4 linked regions of the Homo sapiens genome follow. The protein of the gene in region 1 purifies or fractionates together with the protein of each later gene. This does not show direct contact. Each region holds a gene or a part of one and is shown on either strand. Other genes may lie near its edges.

Region 1 (4,170 bases):
TCACTATGTTGGCCAGGCTGGTCTTGAACACCTGACCTCAGGTGATCCACCCGCCTTGGCCTCCCAAAGTGCTGGGATTACAGACGTGAGCCACCACACCCGGCCATGAAGAGAATTAATTCTTACTGTATTAGTACTAAGTATTAACCAAGACCATTTGGAGATCAATATCACAAAAAAAGGTCCACTGTAGTGAGAAAATCGTTGGTGCTGGACCTCATTTAACTTAGAGTAGCTTTTGTTCAATGTCTCCATGAAAAGCTATCACATTTTTTAAAAACCATACACTATCTCAAAATATCATGGACCACAACTCTAATCCCAAAAGAATTTAAGCAGAAAAAGATGAAAATTGTTAGTGCGTATGCCATCTATCCTTGACGTTTCTCCACATGAAAGCCATCTATCTTCCAAAAAGGCAGCTTGCACATGAAGACTCATGGGTATTCAAAAACAGTTGTTTTCAAAACCATCTTTTCAATGAGCAAGGATTTGTCAATTATTATCCTCCTGAGGAGTTCTTTCTTAGCCATAAAGATAACTTTTATCAATTAAGCACTAACACTATACCCTTTACAAAACCAGAAAGGAAAAAATATTTACTGAAAACAATACAAAGATTCACACTGTAAGTCCCAATTATTTATTCAAAACCCTGAGGGCCAGTTGTGTTTAGAATTTGTAATTGTTTTGGATTTTTAGAAGGGGAGTACTTTGCATGTATCCTGCAAATACCACCCAATAACAAAACATAATAGTATTTCTGCAGCAAAAAATATAAACAGTCACACTAAATGAGACACACAAAAACCATAAGTAGCCTCAGGACAGATTAAGACAGGTTTGCCGCCAAACAGGTTACTAAAAAAATGTACATTTTCAAGTAACTCCCGGTATTTGGGAAATTAAGAAAGAGGACTGTGGCCCTATTTCAAGGCACCAATATTATTCCTGCATTTGGTGAGCCTTTACATACATACCACCGGCCGGGCGTGGTGGCTCATGCCTGTAATCCCAGTACTTTGGGAGGCCGAGGCGGGTGGATCACCTGAGGTCAGGAGTTCGAAACCACCCTGACCAACATGGTGAAATCCCGTCTCTATTAAACATACAAAAATTAGCTGGGCGTCATGGAATCCGCCTGTAATCCCAGCTACTAGAGAGACTGAGGCAGGAGAATCGCTTGAACCCGGGAGGCGGAGGTTGCAGTGAGCCAACATCACGCCATCGCACTCCGACCTGGGCAACAAGAGCAAAACCTCGTCTCAAAAACAAACAAACAAAAAAACACATACATACCACCCACCAGCTGAGGTCATTTTAGGAGACATTAAAAAGTGTACATTTTCAACCTGAAAAGCCGCTGTGAAGAGAAAGATTTCTATTGATATGAGCAAGAATACCACCCAGTTTTCCAAGTATCTTAAGGGTAACCTGCCAGGAAATGAGCAAGAATCACAGAAAACGGCTGAAATGAAGGGGGAATCTTAAAAGTCACCATTATAGTCTAATTACCGAGATATTTAAAGCCTTGACGTGAGACTTATTCCTTCCTGGCTTGATCCTGGAACTCAGCTCTTCTCTGTGGCTTTTACCAATATATCTCCCATTGTACTCCAGGGCAGACTTAACTGCTCCTTCACTTCCTTCCAGCAACACCTTGTATACACCTCCAAGCTGAGAACTTACTAGATCCTTCTAAGATTATTCATGTCTGTTTTCTCCTATCGGGCTGTGACACCCTTAAGCCAGGGATCACATCTAATTAATTTCTGAATCCACAGCAACCACCGCGCAGAAAGTAGTCAATAGACATTTGTTGAATTGAGTTAGATTTGTTCTATATTCTGGATCTGCCACTGCCTGAGTGGCTTGCGGCACTCCATGGGCCTCCGTTAGTTCAGCTGTAAGAAGAAACGACGGGGCCATTCCTGGGTGATCTTCTAAGTGCCTTCTAATTCTAGAAGTTTTTAGTTTTTACCAACTGCATTTTCTAGGCGCTGTCGAACTAGCAAATAAGGAAAGAGGCAACTGGCCTGAGAGGGATCCCCTGCGAGTGGGCGCTGGCTTCCCACCACCCAGTCTTCTGCTTTGTTGTGCCCCTCACCTGGAAGGTAACGAGGCCTCCAAAACCCCGCCTCTGCACCTATCAGCGTCCCCGCTCGGAAAGGCGGGGATTCGGGCCACCCAATCGAGGTCCGCCTAAGCCGCGCCCCCACAGGACAGACTGCCAACCTCGACCAATCAGGAGAGGAGGGATCGTTCTCTCCAGCCAGTGGGAGAGCGCTGGGGCCGGGGCCAGACACCGCCCCCGCACGCGGGGAGGTGACCGTTGAGCCCAAACAGGCGGCGTCACCAGCCAATCAATATGCTTCCAGACGTTTCAGCGACCAATTAATAAGAACGCCTCCGATCCAGGCAAGCAGAGGGCGGGAATAGTTGCAAGCATAGGCCGAGGCCAGGGTCGGGCCCACATTTTTCTGTTGGGTATGGACAGAAGAGAGGGTAGCTGAACAAGGTTCGGGGGAGCGGAAAGTTGGGACCCAAGCACTGTGAGGCGTGGCCAACTGCGTCACGGTGCTCAATCGACTGTCCTTAGAAACCCGCCATCCCTCCTCTCCCGTTTCTCACCTTCCTTCGCGGCATTGCCGGCGGCTGCGGCCCGACGGTTCCGATTCGGGCAGCGGCGGCAGCAGCAGGAACGGTGGCTCCGGCGGGCTCCGTGGCGGCCTCTGTATCAGTCCCAATCCTGCGGACGATCCCTAGTGCCTCCTGCCTCTCAGCGTCTGGAGCGTTCTGCGCAGGCGCCGCGGGCTGAAGCGCTTTTTCCTTCACTTCCGGCTGGGTCTCGCGTCACCTGACGTTACGGGCCAGAGAGGGTGCTGGGAAGTTCGATCCTTTTGGTGAAGCTAGTGGGCGCCATTTTGAAGTTGGGCAGAAAGTGACTCCAGTGGTGGAACCCGGAGCCAACCATTTTTAGTTACGTGAGTGGCTCTGTTTGTGGGCGTGGGTAGCCATTCTTGTTTGGGGCAGAAGCCTGACAGTTGATGTAAACGGTTCTCATCTTTACCTTGGGCAAAATTTCGTTTTAATTTCTAGAGTCGAGGAAGGAAACCCCCCAGAATCCATCAGGTTGCTGAGATTAGATTTAACCCCTTCGTAGCCTGATTGTTTAAAGGACGTTTCCGTTTATTATATAAACTCAAAGTTGCGGAGGGATGTTTTGTAAAAGAAACTTTGTATTTTAAGAAACATCGTGGTCTCGAAGGGGTGGGAATGGGGAATTGAAAAAGGAACTAACGGATAGCGTCCGCCATCAAGTTTCCTGTCTGGTAGAGGAGACATTGTCCTTGCCCTTAGCTAACAGCAAGTGAGTTAGTTGATGTCGCGGGGAGGAGGCAAAACCATTCTCCAGAAGCTGCAGGTCAAATAATTCCCAATTTAGCTCTGTGGCGAGTGCCCACTTCCTAACCGCACTGTGTTTGGGTTTGAGACCACTGGGGGCCCTGGGGTGAAAAATGTGATTTGAAAGTGGGGAATGCAGTACCAGAGTCAGAAAAGCTTTGAACCCCATTTAGCTCAAATGACCTCTGGCATCCAGATGCTTGAGCAGAGAGTTACGAGGCGGAGGAAGAGGAAGGAATGTTTTTAGTGAAGTTGAAGCCCCCAAAAGAATGGACATTTAAATAATAATGAGAGGGCCTAGGAAGGAGAAGTTGGTCACAGATACTAGGCTGAAAGAAGAGCCTTAAGAAAAGGCTGGAAAGTGGAGAGCAGGCGTTGAGGATTTAACCTCTCCGGAGGAAAGGCCTTGAGAGGACCAAGTCTTGACCAATTGCGACTGGGTGGAACCCAGGCACGCTCAGTCATTAAGTTAGGATCCCGAACCCCAATTTCAAACTGAGGCCCCGTTAAGATGGAGATTTCCCCCAGGAGCAGGGCTAAAGAACAAAGAAGCAGAAGGTAAATATCTGATTGATGTGCTAAGTAAAGAACTCTAAAGATTTAAAGTTCCAGACCTTTAGCCAGCACTCTCCTTGGGGATGTCCTGGGCCAGTGTTGACACAGGCAGCTTTTAGTATTTAATACTTAGCTTTTAGTGCTTAGTATAAATACCTTTGATAACCTACTTAGGTTGAACTGCACGTAAGAACTTATTTGAAAATGGTT
Region 2 (5,277 bases), on another chromosome or scaffold:
TAGATAATTTTAAAAAATATTAGCTATATAAAAATGTCATTTGAGCATATTTTTAAAAGGTAGTAAATATAGTACAGTGCAAGACAAATCCAAGTCCTAGAACCCTGAGATTTTACTTTTGGAAGGGACCCTGAGAACCGTCTAATCCAAGTCCTTATTTTGCAGCTGAGCTAAGGACCTTTGTTGAGACCATTTCATAGCACCTTTGCATTAAGAAAAGTTTAATTCAGTAGAGATGTGCTGTTTTGCTTTGACTGGAGTGCAGTGGTGTGATCTCAGCTCACTGCAACCTTCGCCTCCCGGGTTCAAGCGATTCTTCTGCCTCAACCTCCTGAGTAGCTGGGATTATAGGTTTGCGCCACCACGTGTGGCTACTTTTTTTTTTTTTTTTTTGTATTTTTAGTAGAGACAGGGTTTCACCATGTTGGCTAGGCTGGTCTCAACTCCTGACCTCAAGCGACCTGCCCACCTCGGTCTCTCAAAGTGCCAAGATTATAGGAATGATCCACCGCACCTGGCCACATTTGATTTTGGAGAAATAAAGCAAGAAAAACAAAAGTGATTTAATAATTGAAAAAATGAAAAAGAAATGCCCATTTGCTTACATAGCTTTCATATATAGTGTTTTTTTGTTTTTTTTTTTTTTTTGAGATGGAATTTCGCTCTTGTTGCCCAGGCTGGAGTGCAGTGGCACGATCTTGGCTTACTGCAGCCTCCGCTGCCCAGGTTCAAGCAATTCTTCCTTCTCAGCCTCCCATGTAGCTGGGATTACAGGCATGCTGACCACCATGCCTGGCTAATTTTGTATTTTTAGTAGAGACGGGGTTTCTCCCTGTTGGTCAGGCTCATCTCGAACTCCCAACCTCAGGTGATCCGCCCACCTTGGCCTCCCAAAGTGCTGGCATTACAGGCATGAGCCACCCTGCCTATAGTGTTAACTGAAGTAACTAAATTTAGACATGTTGGAAAATAGAGTTTGTTTCTTCAGGTAGACTTGTATATGTACTAATCTCATTGGAAAACTAATTTCATGATAGTATCTATTCAATTAGAGTTGGTGAGCTCTGTTCTATATTTTTAAATGGAGTCTTATTTTCAGTAGTGAATTTCCTGTGTGACTTCCCCCAAAGATATGAAAAGTTTACATTAAAAATCGTAATACAGTGAACTCTAGGATGAGAGATTATTCCTTTGAACAGATTATGTCTGCTCCTTTTATTGTATTTTAACTATTTTCTTTCCTCTCCTTCGAACTACGCAGTCAGTTGCTATGCAGAATTGATAGTTTGCTGTTACGAACCTAGATGTTCTCAAAAAAAGAAAAGAATTATCCAGAGTTTATTTGACAGTGATGGAGAAAGGAAGGTGTATAGGTCAGGAGTAGTTTCACTTTTAGGAATTAATTGGTTCAGCATATAGTCATTGAGCACCTACTGTGGGCCAGGCACTCTGCTTGGAACAGAAACAGTTCTGTCTTCTCTGGGATGCTAATGCAGGTATTTCTATTGACCTGGCCAACTGTAAGGTGAAGATGAAATTCAAAGACTGCGTGGAGTAACCCGAGCAAGTTCCTCTTTACTTTTTCTGGTATCAATTCTAACTTTTTGTTTTTTTTTGGTGATATTAACCTTTGGAAGGAACTGTATGTTAGATTTTCGGCAGCTGAGTGGTTTTGATCCTTTTGGGAGATCAACTGTGTTGGAATACGTTTAAGAGGAGTTTTTGTGAAGACATTGGAACTTTAGTGTGTTCTTTTCACATTGATAAGTACTGAGGAGAATCCATGGGATACTGTGATTAAAAGTTTTTAGGCCAGGCCTGGTGGCTCAGGCCTGTAATCCCAGCACTTTGGGATGCCGAGGGGGGGGTGGATCACCTGAGGTCAGGAGTTCAGGACCAGCCTGGCCAATATGGTGAAACCCCATCTCTACAGAATACAAAAATCAGCCCGGCATGATGGTGGGTGCCTGTAATCCCAGCTACTCGGTAGGCTGAGGCAGGATAATCGCTTGAACCCAGGAGGCGGAGGTTGTAGCGAGCCTAGATTGTGCCACTGCACTCCAGCCTGGGCAACAGAGCAAGACTCCATCTCAAAAAAAAAAAAAAAAAAAAGTTTTTACCCATGTTATAAGGGAAATTTTTGAGCTAACTTTAGAGTGTGGTAGTTAATGGTGAGTTTATTTATTAAAGTGTTTATTTACTATGTGCCAGGCGTTATTTTAATGCTGTATATATATTAACTCATTTAATCCTCTAACATAACTAGCTACTGTTAGGTTAGTTAGTTATTAATAACATAACAGTACCAGCAGTGAAATAGCTACTGTTATTTTACAGGTGAAGAAACTGAGGCATAAAAGAGATTTCAGTAACTTGCTGAAGTCACACAAATATTAGGTGGCAGAGCTGGGATTTGAATTTGGGCAGTCTGGCTCCAGAGTCTTTGTAATAGCCATACTGACCACCTCTTAGGAGCAGTAATGTATGATGGCTATCACTGCACTCAAGTACAGAATCGTGAATGTCCTTGGTGTTAACTTCATAGCACATTTCCTAATTGTTAAAGGACAAATTCCCGCCCGTCTTCATTGTGTCCATTTTTCTTTTTTTGCAGAACAGATTTGAAAATTCACTTTGGACCAGTGATAAGAATGTGTTAGGAACCAAAGATTAGGAGTAATCTAGTTTTGTATATCTGAGGTCCATTAAAAAAAAGTTTCACCTACATGCCATTTTTTTCCCTTAAAGATAATTTCTGTGCTAACTAATTTTCATTTCAGTTGTCACTAACATTTTCTGATAGGCAAGGTAGGGATCAGTTGTATTGCTATACCAGAGTGCTTTAATTTGGGACAGAAATACTGTTTTCCTTGAATCATGGGATTATAGGTGAGGAGAAGAGTGTGTAACTGGCTTAAATAGCATCTTCCTCTTTGTAAATTTCTTTTTGAAATATAGATATTACTGTAAGGTAATTTGTTCCATTTACTTCAGTTATTCATTATTTATTTAGCAAACATTTGAATGCCTGCCATGAACAGTGGATTTAAGATTTAGGTCCTGTGAGGGGATTAAAGCAGACAGAATAGAGATACAAAATAAATTTTTTGAAAGCCTTTTTTAGTTTATGAACTGTAATTTTTTTACATTATTATTTTTTCATAACAATTAAGTATCATGACTCAGAAATAATAATATGTTTAGTGGGCAAGGCAATTATTTGAGACTGTGATGGTCCATTTAAAAAATTATCTTTATATAGTGAGTCTTGGAAAGATTCAATTTCCTTTCAAGAATAGTTTTCACCTTGATTTCAAACTTCTGAGTTCATTTTTACACACTGACATAATTTACTTGAATATATATAGTTTGTGTTCTGTATTACTAGCCCAGAAAAATATTCTCTTTCATGGTAATCAGCCAGATCATTAAAAGTATTGTTATTTGGTGGCATAGTATTTTGGAACAGAATTATAATTTGCTAAAGCGTTCAGTTGGACAGGGAAGAGTAGGTATTGTCAACTAATGTTATTGTTCAGGTTACTCCCAGCTGGGTAACCTGGAGCAGAAAGATCCAATGATAAATCTCTTGCCTTCTACTCTAAGTTACATCTCAATTTGGTCAACTCTTAGTAGAGTCCAAATTATTTTGTTTTATTGGAATTTATATTTTAAATTATAGAGGAAGTAGAGCTTTGACAGGAATTTAGAATTTAAATTTTCGATGTAGAGATACTGATTAAAATGGGGATTTTTTTTTTTTTTTTGAGAGATGGAGTCTTGCTTTGTTGCCCAGGCTGGAGTGCAGTGGTGCAACCTCCACCTCCTGGGTTCAAGCGATTCTCCTGCCTCAGCCTCCCGAGTAAGCTGGGATTATAGGCGCATGCCACCATGCCCGGCTAATTTTTATATTTTTAGTAGAGATGGGGTTTCACCAGGTTGGCCAGGCTGGTCTCGAACTCCTGACCTCATGATCCGCCTGCCTCGGCCTCCCAGAGTGCTGGGATTATAGGCGTGAGCCACCGTGCCCGGCCAGGGATATGTTTTTAAGTTACTGAAAGTTAAGAGTGATGAAGTTTTGATTTAGCTATTTGGAAATGACCTTTATAGTAGAATAGTTGCACATTTTATATGTTAGAATGGTGGTATTTTATAAGAAAATTGTTAACCAATATAAGCTTGGAAATTTCAATTTCAATTACTCTGTTGCGTTGATACTGTATAAAAAGGCAATAAATAGTTGTCCATGCTATTAAATTCAGGGCTATGTGGACTGCTTGACAGAATGATTGTTCACTTTGGAAAAACAAAAAAAACAAAAAATCTTCTGAAGGCAAAAGATAAAATATTGAGGATACAGTGACGTGGAAAATGTAGCTATTATCAAGTGTGAAATGGATTGATCTCAGTAATTGTTATATTTAATAATTTAAACATTTTTTATGACATGCATTTCTTTTCTTTTTTTTTTTTGAGATGGAGTCTTGCTCTGTTGCTTAGGCTGGAGTGCGGTGGCCCAGTTTCAGCTCACTGCAACCTCCGCCTTCCAGGTTGAAGCAATTCTACTGCCTCTCCCCTCCTGCTGTCTGCGATTACAGGCGTGTGCCACCATACCTACCTAATTTTTGTATTTTTAATAGAAATGGGGTTTCACCATGTTGGCCAGTTGTGTTCTCGAACTCCTGACCTCAGGTGATCCGCCCACCTCCGCCTCCCAAAGTGCTAGGATTACAGGCGTCAGCCACCATGCCCGGCCCATGCCGTACATTTCTGACATCATTGTTTATACCATTTGTTTGTGACTCCAAATGTACCAGGAGCAGTGGCCTAGAAATAAAAATTTGTTACTAACAAGTCATTGAGGTGGATTAATTGTAAATCTGGTTAGGAATTAATTTTGTCTTAGCAGATTTATTCTTCAAAAATTCAGAAATTTAAAAATAACTCAGAGATATGTTTGTAAAATAGTATCTGTTTAAGTACAATCAGCTGCACAGTTTTTTTTTTTTTTTTTTTTTGAGACGGAATCTCACTCTTGCCCAGACTGGAGTGCAGTGGCGCAACCTTGGCTCACTGCAACCTCTGCCTCCCAGGTTCAAGTGATTCTCCTGCCTCAGTCTCCCAAATAGCTGGGATTACAGGCATGCGCCACCATGCCTGGCTAATTTTTGTATTTTTAGTAAAGATGGGGCTTCACTGTGTTGGCCAGACGAATCTCAAACTCCTGATTGGCTTCCCAAAGTGCTGGGATTATAGGTGTGAGCCACTGTACCTGGC
Region 3 (5,277 bases), on another chromosome or scaffold:
TCAGATGATTGTTGGAAGAAAAATGGTTGTGTGTATGTATCTTTAAGCAACAAAAAATATACTCACAATATCTAGTAACCCATGTCCTCAAAAGATCTTAACCACAAAAATACCTACTGCAGAAAGTTGCAAAATCATGGTAAAATATTTAAAAGCTGGTAGTCTAGCTTTTCGATTTGGAAACCTTGAAATTCTGACCATCCAAACAGGAACTAAATCAACTCTGTGTTACTGAAGTACAGAGGGAAACTTCATGTAGTCTAGAATATTGTCTGTGTGTTTCAAATACAGATTTTTAAATATTACAACAATGGGTACCGTAGTGGTGTTTGTATGATTCCTTAGAGCAATGGCTAAACTTATATAACCAGAGCTGCCTGTGGAGATCCCCATCTGACCAGCCCAGCCAACAAAACTAATTTGTGACTGATGAAAATTGTGAATTCATAGTTATTATTTTTCTTACTGATTTTGAGAAACATCAGAAGAATGTGTGCATAAAAAATGAGGTGGAGAGCTTAAAACATTGTCCCAGGCCATATGCCCTGCTCTTTAAGGAGAAAGAAGTTTAAATCATTAGCTGTCTTACACTCTGTAAGACAGCTCATTGTCTATGGAGCTACATTTATTAGAGAGTTAATTACTCTGTTCTCCATTCTCTCAGAGGAAGGTAAAAGAAAGGGTAAGATTTATTTGAGAGAGAAAAGGAAAGCCCATAAGCTTCTCTGTATTTTGAGTTAGAAGATGTGACTGCAATTGATTCCCACTATACTCAACCTCTCCACTAGGATTTATTTATTTAAAGCCTCAAATCACAAGTGAACATCCTAGAAAGGAATTTCACTGAAAAAAAGTTGTAGGTCTAACAGCATGAAAATGCCACTCCTTGTAAAAAGTTAAGTCTTGCTACTTGCTTTAAACAACTTACTGTAGAAAGATTCAGAGATTTGTCTACGTAGAGCCGCTTGATTAGTTTCAGTGAGTAAAAGGAACTAAGTTTGTTTACATCCGATGTTACTGTTTGAAATCCAAAGGGTACATCTTTGACATTTTCAAAATGAAGAACCTGTTAAGAGAAAAATCCGTTACCCAAAAAGCATTGCCTCTGAGTAGTGCTGTACTGAAGTGGACACGTGATAATGACCAACGTCCTTGGGCATACAGACTCCTCCTGCCTAGTTCCCGTAAAGTAAGGCTCCTCAACCTCAGCACTATTGACATTCAGGCTGGATGAGTCTTTGTGGGGCTGTCCTGGGCACTGCAGGATGCTTAGCAGCATCGCTGACCTACTAGATGCCAGTGGCATCCTCCTCCTATTTGTGAGAACCCAGAATGTCTCCAGACATTGCCAGATTATCCCAGAGTGGGAAGGGGAGGACAAATTGTCCCCACTGAGAAACACTACCATAAAGGTACTCTTCCAAATCAACCATCGAGAACATTTGTCCTTTCTTCAAAGTGATGCCCTTAATACTCACACAGAAGGATTTCCAAACTTGGAGAACGATGAAGCTGGGTTATAATTTCTATCCAATTCAAAGACCAGAGAGAGAGATTGATACAAGAGACACCATCATCAGGCAGGAATCAGATTTCAGGACAAGTGCCTCTAGCCAGAGTCTGTCTAGTCCCTCTGGGTGCTTTAGCAAATGCCAGGTAAATAGATGTGTCATTTCTGATGGGCAGCTACAATAAATGGTGGGCTGCCCTGGGCTGGCTAGAGTCAGATGGCCCTGCCTGTGAATCCCAGCCTTCACCACCTCTTCTCCAACTCTTCAGAGAATCTTCTCCAACTCTTCAGAGCCTCCTTTCCTCTCCGTAAAATGGGCTGAAAATACCTGCTTTCCTGAGTTGTTAATGAGGATTACTTATATGTAAAACACGTAAAATATTATATGGATTCAAACTGTTAATTATTCTTGTAATAATATTGTAAGCCATTTAAAACCAGGATACTATCATTTGGAGGGCTTAAATCATTGTATTTTTTTCCTTTTTTTTTTTTATTGTTCCAACCAATAGTCCAGCATCTTTTCTGCCTTGCAACACCACAACATGTAATGTCAGCATAAGATGACACCCTCCTCGCTCCATAACTCATAATGGCCATGCTGTGATTCCACAACCCAGATAACGAACGCTGCCAAACCGGCACATTGTCCCAATGAATTACATAGCCTCAGCATTGCAGGGTCAAATGCTGGTCCCAGACAGTGCATAACTCTCATGCCTAAAGATGGATGAAGGAGACCAGAAAATTTAAGAGCCCAGGTAACTACTGCTGGGGAACCAGTTGCATATACTGAGAAGAGCTTGAGGAATTACTGAGGAACAGACCCACTACCCGGAAGTTCTCTTTCGCTGGCCTTTCTCTAATGGTAGATGAGAAATGAGGAATGGGAGATTGGGTAGGGATAGTGGAGTTGCGCAGTTCAGAGATGTGGCTTGATGTCAAGATACATCTCCTCTTCACAGGAGTGAAGCTGCTTCAAGTCCCAAGTGTAAATTCTTCATCCTTACCTAAATAACTCTTATGGGCCATACTTTCTGGACACATATGAATACAAGAAGGTGTTGCCTTTTTAAATGCTTATGAGCTAATAGAAAAGAAATTCTATTGAACCTAGAATGATTAGCATAAGAGTAATAATGAAATAGAATTAGAAGAACATTCACCTATTATGTAAAAGTACATGAGGACTTAAAACGGAACAATCAGGAAAATTGTCTCATTTGAAGGTCTAAGAACTTTACAAAGCTAGATAATCAACCATAGCCAGAAAGAAACCCTAAAACGATACAGATGCTGCTTGATTTATGATGAGGTTACATCTCAATAAAACCATTGTAAATTGAAAATATTATAAGTCAGAATGAAAAAGCTGTGATTACCCAGCAGATCTCCAGGTTCTCCATCACAGCCTGGTGCCTGTCCCAGATGTGAGTTGCATTACCTACAAGCGAGCTTTCACATTTAAAAATAAATTAAGATGCCTGTAATCCCAGCATTTTGGGAGGCCGAGGCAGGCGGATCACCTGAAGTCAGGAGTTCGAGACCAGCCTGGCCACATGGTGAAACCCTGTCTCTACTAAAAATACAAAAATTTGCCTGGCGTTGTGGCACGCGCCTGTCATCCCAGCTACTCGGCAGGCTGAGGCACAACAATCGCTTGAACCTGGAGGCTGCAGTGAGCCAACATCGCACCACTGCACTCCAGCATGGGTGACAGAGTGGGACCCTGTCTCACAAAAAAAAAAAAAAAAAAAAAAGATTAAGAGAGTCCTGGAATGGCACAGTTCTGAATCTTGACCAATTCTGGCCACAAAGTCTACATTCCTTTTTTCCGTAGGCACTGCCTATGGGTTCTAATAACTGTATTCCCACTTAAAGTAGAAACAAGGTTTTGGGGCTTACCTGTCCAATTTCATTTGCAGTGTCACCTTTAGCACCCACTTGAGCAAGTGACAGAGAGGTGGAGAGACAGATTGGAGAGAAGAGGACATTGCCCAGTGGCTCCTTTTCACATAGTTGTTTGAACAGATCAACGGCAAAAGCCGAATTTGCTAGTTGCAGGGCATCCATTGCGGGCCTGGAAGCAAGGACAAGGGAGCAGTTAGTTTCTAAAGCATCTTTAACGTCTTCTCAACTGCATTCTGCCAACACTATAAGAATTCTATTTAAACAAAGTAATTGATCTCAGAAGAAACAAGGAACTTTCTGTAAATTCAAAAGTAAGATCAGTTGTGAAGAAACTTCCAGGCAAATGTCTGAAGGCATGTGAGGTCCTCTGTGTGTCCAGCTCTGCCTAGACTCTGCAGTCTTGGGCCTGCTCAGCCACAGTGGCCATTGTCGGGAGCCCAGTGGTCACATCTCTTCTCCAGCATATGTCAGAAAAGTTGACAGCACTAATCAACATCAGTTGGTTTTATTTATCACATATTGTTTCCATTAGGATTTCAGTTAAACTACAAAGTTAAAACTTTTATAAAACAAAAACAGTCGAATTGCAGCAGTTTTGCATTGTTCAGTTTAATATTTAGTAAGTGTAATGGGTTGAATTGTGTCCCCCAAAAAGATATGTTAAGTCCTAATCCCCATTACCTGTGAATGTGACCTTACGTGGAAACAGGGTATGTCCTATTTCTTAACTAATATATAATTAGTTAAGATGAAGTTACATTGGAGTTAGGTGAGCCCTAATCCGATATGACTGGTGTCCTTAAAGGAATAAGAGGAGAGACACAGAAACAGACATACACAGAGGGAAGATGTGAAGACACAAATGTCTTCACCTGTGTGAAGGGCATGCCGTATGGCAATGGAGGCAGAGATTGGAGGGATGCTTCCACAAGCCAAAGAATGCTAAGAACTGCTGGCAACACCAGAAACCAAGAGAAAGTCATGGAACATTCTCCCCTGGAGCCTTTTGAGACAGCATGACCCTGCCGACATCGTCATTTCAAAGTACTGGCCTCCAAGCCTGTGGGTGAATAAAGCTTCTGTTGCTTTAAGCTGCCTGGTTTGTGGTGCTTTGTGAGAAGTGCTAGAAAACCCTTAAAGTAACTAATGCCTTTGCAGGACACCCAGCACATAACAATACTTAATAAACAGCAGCGGTTATTGTTTGCGTTTATAATACGCATCTGTGTGTAAGACACTACCCAGAGTGTTACAAGGATCAGTGGACCTCCTCCTTCTCTAAGCTCATAGTCTCTTTGGGCAGATATGCAGACAAATAACTAGAATACAGAGCTGCCCAAGACATGTGAGTGGTATAATAAGTAATATGGGAGTTAAAGAAAAGAGGGAACAGTTTCAAAATATGTAGCCTGGTAAAGTGGATATAGCAGCAACTAGGCATCTTGTCACATCTCAGAGCTCTTTAATTTTAACACAGCAACTTCCAAAGTGTTGTGTCTTGACTCCTGGCAGTCCCTAACACCCTTTCAGGAGGTCCATGAGGTTAAAACTATTCTCATGATAATACTAAGACATTATCATTCTCAATCTCTAATAGACAGCGGAGTTTTCCAGAGGCTATATGACATCCCTTCTATTAAGCCAAATATTAAGGAGATTTGCAAAAATGAAAAACAATATCACTCTTCTCATTACATTTTTTCACTTTAGAAAATGTTTTTTAATATATATATTATTCATATTAGTATTTAATTATTATATTATTTTAATAAATTAGTAAATGAACATTTCAAAATGTGTCTGGTTTTCATTTCTAGTTTGGTAAATAGTGATAGATATAATCTACATTTTTTTTA
Region 4 (5,277 bases), on another chromosome or scaffold:
CTATATTAAATACTTATGCTGCATATTATACTCTCAAGATAGTGAAAAGACAACCCATGGAATTGATGAAAATATTTGCAAATCTTGTCTCTGATAAGGGACTTGTGAACATGTGAAAATCTCTTGCAATTCAACTATAAAAAGACAACTCACTTAAAAAATGGAAAAAAATTGAATGGACATTTCTTCAAACAAGATGTATAAATGGCCAATAAGCACATAAAAATTGCTAAAAAACATTAGTTATTAGGGAATACAAATCAAAACTCCAATTGGATACCACTTTCCACCACCTAGGATGGCCATAATCCAAGAGATGAACAATAACAAATGGCAACGAGGATGGGGAGAAAGTGGAACCGTCATACACTACTAGGAATGTATGATGGTGCTTTTGCTTTAGAAAACAGTATGGCAATTCCTTAAGCATAGAGTTATCATGTGACCTATCAATTCCACTCCTAGGTATATACTCAAAAGAAATGAATACATGTACCTTACACACTTGTACACAGACGTTCACAGCAGCATTATTCACAATAGCCAAAAATTGAAAACAACCCAAATGTCCAACTGATTAATCAATAAATAAAATGTATATCCATACAACTGGATATTATTTAGCAACCAAAAGGAATGAAGTCTTGACTCATGCTAAATCATGCTTGCATCCTGCAAACATTATGCAAAATGAAAAATCCAGACACAAAAGACTATATGTTGTATTATTTCATTTATATGAAATATCCAAAATAGACTTCTGCTGAAGCTATTCATAATTACTTTATATTTGGTTTTGCTAAATGGCTGGAATGTAATTTGTGGTCATATTGCTACCGTGAGGGTAGACCTTACCTGATTAAGATGTCTACACAGGAAAGAGCAGAGCCAAGATATAAAGAAAGACATATTTATAAAGGCATATTTTGAACACACAAATCCATCTGGATACCAAGTAACCCCATTTAAGTGAATTTAAAAAGTCCCAGTTTACATTGGGTCTCTTGTCACATGAAACAGAAAGAGTCCTAACTAATGTGGTTGGTTAAAAAAACAATTATTTGTTTTTCACTTCCAAGGTAATTAATATATTGTAAATTCAGGAAAGATGTGCTTCAGGATTTTTTTGACCACAATAGTGATGTCTTTTTGTGAATATTCATTCTTCAGTAGAATAACTGGCCAGCAGAAAACACCAAACTCTGTCTAGCTTGTATATACCAATTAAACATGAAATAACTTGGATTATATGATCATAATTTTTATATTCAAATTTCATTTAAAAATACATTACTTTTTAGTGGTAATAGTAGTCCTTCCACCAGTGGAGGGTTGGTTATGAGAGGAATATATTTCTTGCCGCAACTTGGAGAGTTCCTTACAAATAAAAGATAATATAATCATTTGATGGAAAGTAGAAACATGAGATAATAAATATATTTAATCATTTAGAAGGGTTACTAACAATGATTATACCCCCTCCCTTTTACCCCTTTTTAGCCTTGACGTAATAATGTTCTAATCCCACTTGTTGAATATCACCTAGTGTTGCTTCACAGTACCTAATAAGTTATATTATATGCCGGTGCAGGAACCTGCAACTGATACAGGATATCTAAATTTGGAGGATAACTTGAGATTGAATGGGCGTGGTTCTCAGGATGAGGATGTGAAAGTTTTTGCTCTGAAAAGCCTGAAAAGTATATCCATAGAAGAAAAGTATTGAAACTTCAATATATAAGCAGATATAGTTTCTTAAGAGAGAGTTTATCAATGAATGTTACTACAAGCACCATTTGCTCCATAACAGCAATACAATATTACCCATAATTTTTGACAATTCCTTCAGTACCTATTGAATGCCAGGTCATGGGCTACATGCTACAGATACAAGGAGGAATATAACACATGCTTTAATGAAGCAGCTCATAATGTAGTAAGGAGGTCACAGTCTACTGGGAATTTCACTGCTAATGAAATATAAAATCAATGTCTTAAAAATATTAAATGTATAACAGCACTTATTTTTTGCTTCAATTGTAACTTTCATTTGAATTGTGTCTCCTGAAATATGTATATTCTACTTCCTCACTTGCACCTACATTTTATTTCATTAAATAAAGTGACTCTTGGATATGTGTCCTTTTCTAGTCCATGGGAAGTATTTATCCTACAGTACTACAGTACTAAGTTGTATTACTTTTCTCCATCCCCACCCCTTCCTTTTATACCTCTGACTGACGCTTTATGAGGGAATCCTTCTCTTCCAGCAAGCTTGTCAGTTCATGAAGCTTAAATTGGAAGTCACTACAACTTCCTTCTCTCTTTGAAACATCTTTATGGTACTGGTTTAATTGGGACTAAGGATTTAAAAAGAAATAAATATTATTATAATCTTCATATAGAAAATGTGTAACTGAGTTCCAGGGAGGTTAAGTGACACAAACTCACACAGTTATGAAATGAAAGTAAAATACCAATAGTCATAAACGTTCGAAGAATTTCATGAGTATGTAATATGAAATGAAATGCCAATTACAAATTTCTCCTTTTTTTAAGGTGTCTTTGCTATGTAGGACTAAACATTATCTACGTAACAGTCTTAGGCCACAAAATTTAAAGTAAAGCTAAGAAAACAGGCACTTTAGAGTCCTTGAAATAATAATTAAGGAAATAGCAATAACAAATTACTACTATTATATTCTGATTTTCAGTTCACAAAATATTCCTCCTGCATGAATTATCTCAGTTCTCACAGCAGTCCCATGAAATAAGCATTATTATAATCTTCATTTACAAAACAGATAATGGGCTCCAGAGAGGTTAAATGACACAGTCACGCAGTAACATAGCTGCAACTCCAAAACAGGTCTTCTGACTACAAATCTTGTCCATTTCCCTCTTTACCTCATATGTGTGTAGCTTAGGTAGAAGTGCTGTTAGTAATGTTGGAATGGAAAAGAAATCAGTGGAGGAAATCTGCTAGAAGTATTGGTAGGTTTGGAAAACAAATTATATTTTGTTTCATTTTGATTTTTGGTAAAAATTATACAGTGATGTTTGGAGAGACAAATTTGTGATTATTTTGTTTATTAAAATATTTAAGTATATTTTACTACCTTTAGGAATCAGTAAAATAAGGGTTAGATTAAGTAAATTCAACCTAGAATTACAAGTTAAGGCAATATATACTTATAAATATCACCTTAATTTTGATGTCAACTATAGGTACCTAAAACTTAACACTGTTTTCCTCCTCATGCTTGACAAAGTCCTTGCTATTCATCATCCCTCGAAATTAAGTGAGAATTTTTACAAATCTAACTATGGCTCTGTTGAGTAATTTCATATATTGCTTTTGCCTACATAAGCATGCTTTAGGCAAGATCATGAAGAGTCCTCCATCTATCCCAAAAAATAAATTAATAAAAACCAAAACCAAACCACTGAAATGAATATCTTCTTTTACTTTCCTAGAAGAAATTAAGCTAAATTAGAAAATCATTTAACAGTTATATTTTAGATACAGTAATGTATTTAAAACAAATGAATACATGACATATTTCTAAAACTCTACCTTCAGCTAATTTTTTCTGGTAGCTTTAAACTTGAAGCCATCATTATCTTGCTAGAAAGTTTGTGCTGACCTGTGTATTTATGCAATGTAGGATCAACATACCCTCAGTCTGCAGATCTCTCTATCTTTCTCCATTCTCAAGTTTTTTACCATCTCCGTGTAGTGGTTGCCAATCTCATCCATTTTAGCCTGCAACATTGGGCCTGTGCAAGTCTCAGAAACCTACAGAAGGCAAAATAACTATCTGTAATTGGATTGTTTTGAAGAAAATACATGTTATGTTACAAGGATTGTTATTAGATGAAAACCACATGATTAAATAAGACATTGAAATAATGAAAGTGATTTTCAGGAACTGCATTATAAAGCTCAAATGTCAGTGATTAAGATCTAACAGTATGTGAGGGAAAGCAGTCCATATGTTTTCTAAATGCTAGGATTACAATGATGTAACTAAGGTAATACTGTATATTTAAAAGGAAGTTTTAATACCTGCATTCTAAGGTTTTGATTCTCTTGCTCTAAATTACGTTTACAATATTCCAGTTCTTTTAGTCTGTATTCCATGTCTGATAGTGTATGTCGAAGAGAGAGATTGTTTTCTTCCAATGCCTGGCATTTTGAACTTGAGTCTTGAAGTCCTTGCTGTAAAGAAGACACAAGTACATAAGACAAATGCATTTTGTTTTTGGTGAGGGAGTGTTCTTTTTATTGATTCATTCAATTGAATCAAGTAAATATTTTCCTATGCCCAGTTTTCTTATACTCTGGGTCTTAGATGGTACATTAAGTCACCCATGTAAGATATTATAGTGTTGCCTCTAGTCTCACTCATCTATTTTGTGAGAGAGGGAATCATGACTAGATGAATTTATAATGTCTCAATTTAACAATCAGACTCTTGCTACTCTGTGACAATACTGTACCCTGCTTTCTAGTAGGCACAGAAACGACCATATGCCTGATTATTTACATGACAACTAGTAACTGAGCAAGAATTTGGGACAGCCATAGGAGTAAAGATCAGGAAGAGGGTAATCCTTAGAGACTACTTACAATTTCCTAGGAATTCTCTCTGCTCAGACATCCAGAGAATTCATCTAGAGTTTTTTCAGTCATTTATTTATTGCACAAACATGTATTAAGGTCTACAACAGCTTTTCTCATTGACATGTTAGTACATTAAATAAATGCATGAACCTAGATTTTTAGTATTTCTACAATTCTGGTCACCCAACAAGACAAATAATTGTGTCCCATATGTACTTTATATCTAAAATAGATAAGATTATCTGTTTTTCTGAGAGGGCTTTCAGCCATTAGAAATACCCAAAGCCACTCAATTCTCATATGAACAAATTTTTCCATCATATTTAATTCTGTCTTGATTATATCTCATAACTCCAATGTGCCAGTAATTGTGCATATGAAAAGCTATCAATGTAGATTAACACCAATAAAAGCATCAGTTTACCTGCTGCTGGTGATTATTTGCTCTCACTGATGCCAAGAGTTCTTCGTACTCTTTTAATTGAGTGTCTTTGAATGATAAATCTTTCTCAAGTCTCATCTTGTCATTTTCCAGTGACTAGAAGCATAAATTATTTATTATGATTCAGAATTGCAAAAACTTAACAGTCACATAATACAAAGACTTGCTTACCTTGGAAGATTTAAATAAGCACTTGTTTCATTTGTAC

Evidence for each region.
Region 2: the proteins of KAT7 (region 1) and KAT6A purify together in Homo sapiens (affinity purification with mass spectrometry, with the first as the bait; one large-scale study listed by BioGRID). This does not show direct contact.
Region 3: the proteins of KAT7 (region 1) and SERPINB5 purify together in Homo sapiens (affinity purification with mass spectrometry, with the first as the bait; one large-scale study listed by BioGRID). This does not show direct contact.
Region 4: the proteins of KAT7 (region 1) and POF1B purify together in Homo sapiens (affinity purification with mass spectrometry, with the first as the bait; one large-scale study listed by BioGRID). This does not show direct contact.

Annotation. Positions count from the first base shown.
Region 1 is NC_000017.11:49,787,311-49,791,480, reverse strand, and holds the start of KAT7 (histone acetyltransferase KAT7), read right to left. Parts: upstream 2,801-4,170; 5' UTR 2,647-2,800; coding exon 2,632-2,646; intron 2,419-2,631; exon of another isoform or gene 2,371-2,418; intron 1-2,370. UniProt on the Homo sapiens protein: Catalytic subunit of histone acetyltransferase HBO1 complexes, which specifically mediate acetylation of histone H3 at 'Lys-14' (H3K14ac), thereby regulating various processes, such as gene transcription, protein ubiquitination, immune regulation, stem cell pluripotent and self-renewal maintenance and embryonic development.
Region 2 is NC_000008.11:42,040,934-42,046,210, reverse strand, and holds part of KAT6A (histone acetyltransferase KAT6A), read left to right. Parts: intron 1-2,635; exon of another isoform or gene 2,636-2,707; intron 2,708-5,277. UniProt on the Homo sapiens protein: Histone acetyltransferase that acetylates lysine residues in histone H3 and histone H4 (in vitro). Component of the MOZ/MORF complex which has a histone H3 acetyltransferase activity. May act as a transcriptional coactivator for RUNX1 and RUNX2.
Region 3 is NC_000018.10:63,482,735-63,488,011, reverse strand, and holds part of SERPINB5 (serpin B5), read right to left. Parts: intron 3,591-5,277; 5' UTR 3,584-3,590; coding exon 3,416-3,583; intron 1,067-3,415; coding exon 929-1,066; intron 1-928. UniProt on the Homo sapiens protein: Tumor suppressor. It blocks the growth, invasion, and metastatic properties of mammary tumors.
Region 4 is NC_000023.11:85,302,112-85,307,388, forward strand, and holds part of POF1B (protein POF1B), read right to left. Parts: intron 5,166-5,277; coding exon 5,052-5,165; intron 4,223-5,051; coding exon 4,070-4,222; intron 3,800-4,069; coding exon 3,680-3,799; intron 2,361-3,679; coding exon 2,232-2,360; intron 1,378-2,231; coding exon 1,295-1,377; intron 1-1,294. UniProt on the Homo sapiens protein: Plays a key role in the organization of epithelial monolayers by regulating the actin cytoskeleton. May be involved in ovary development.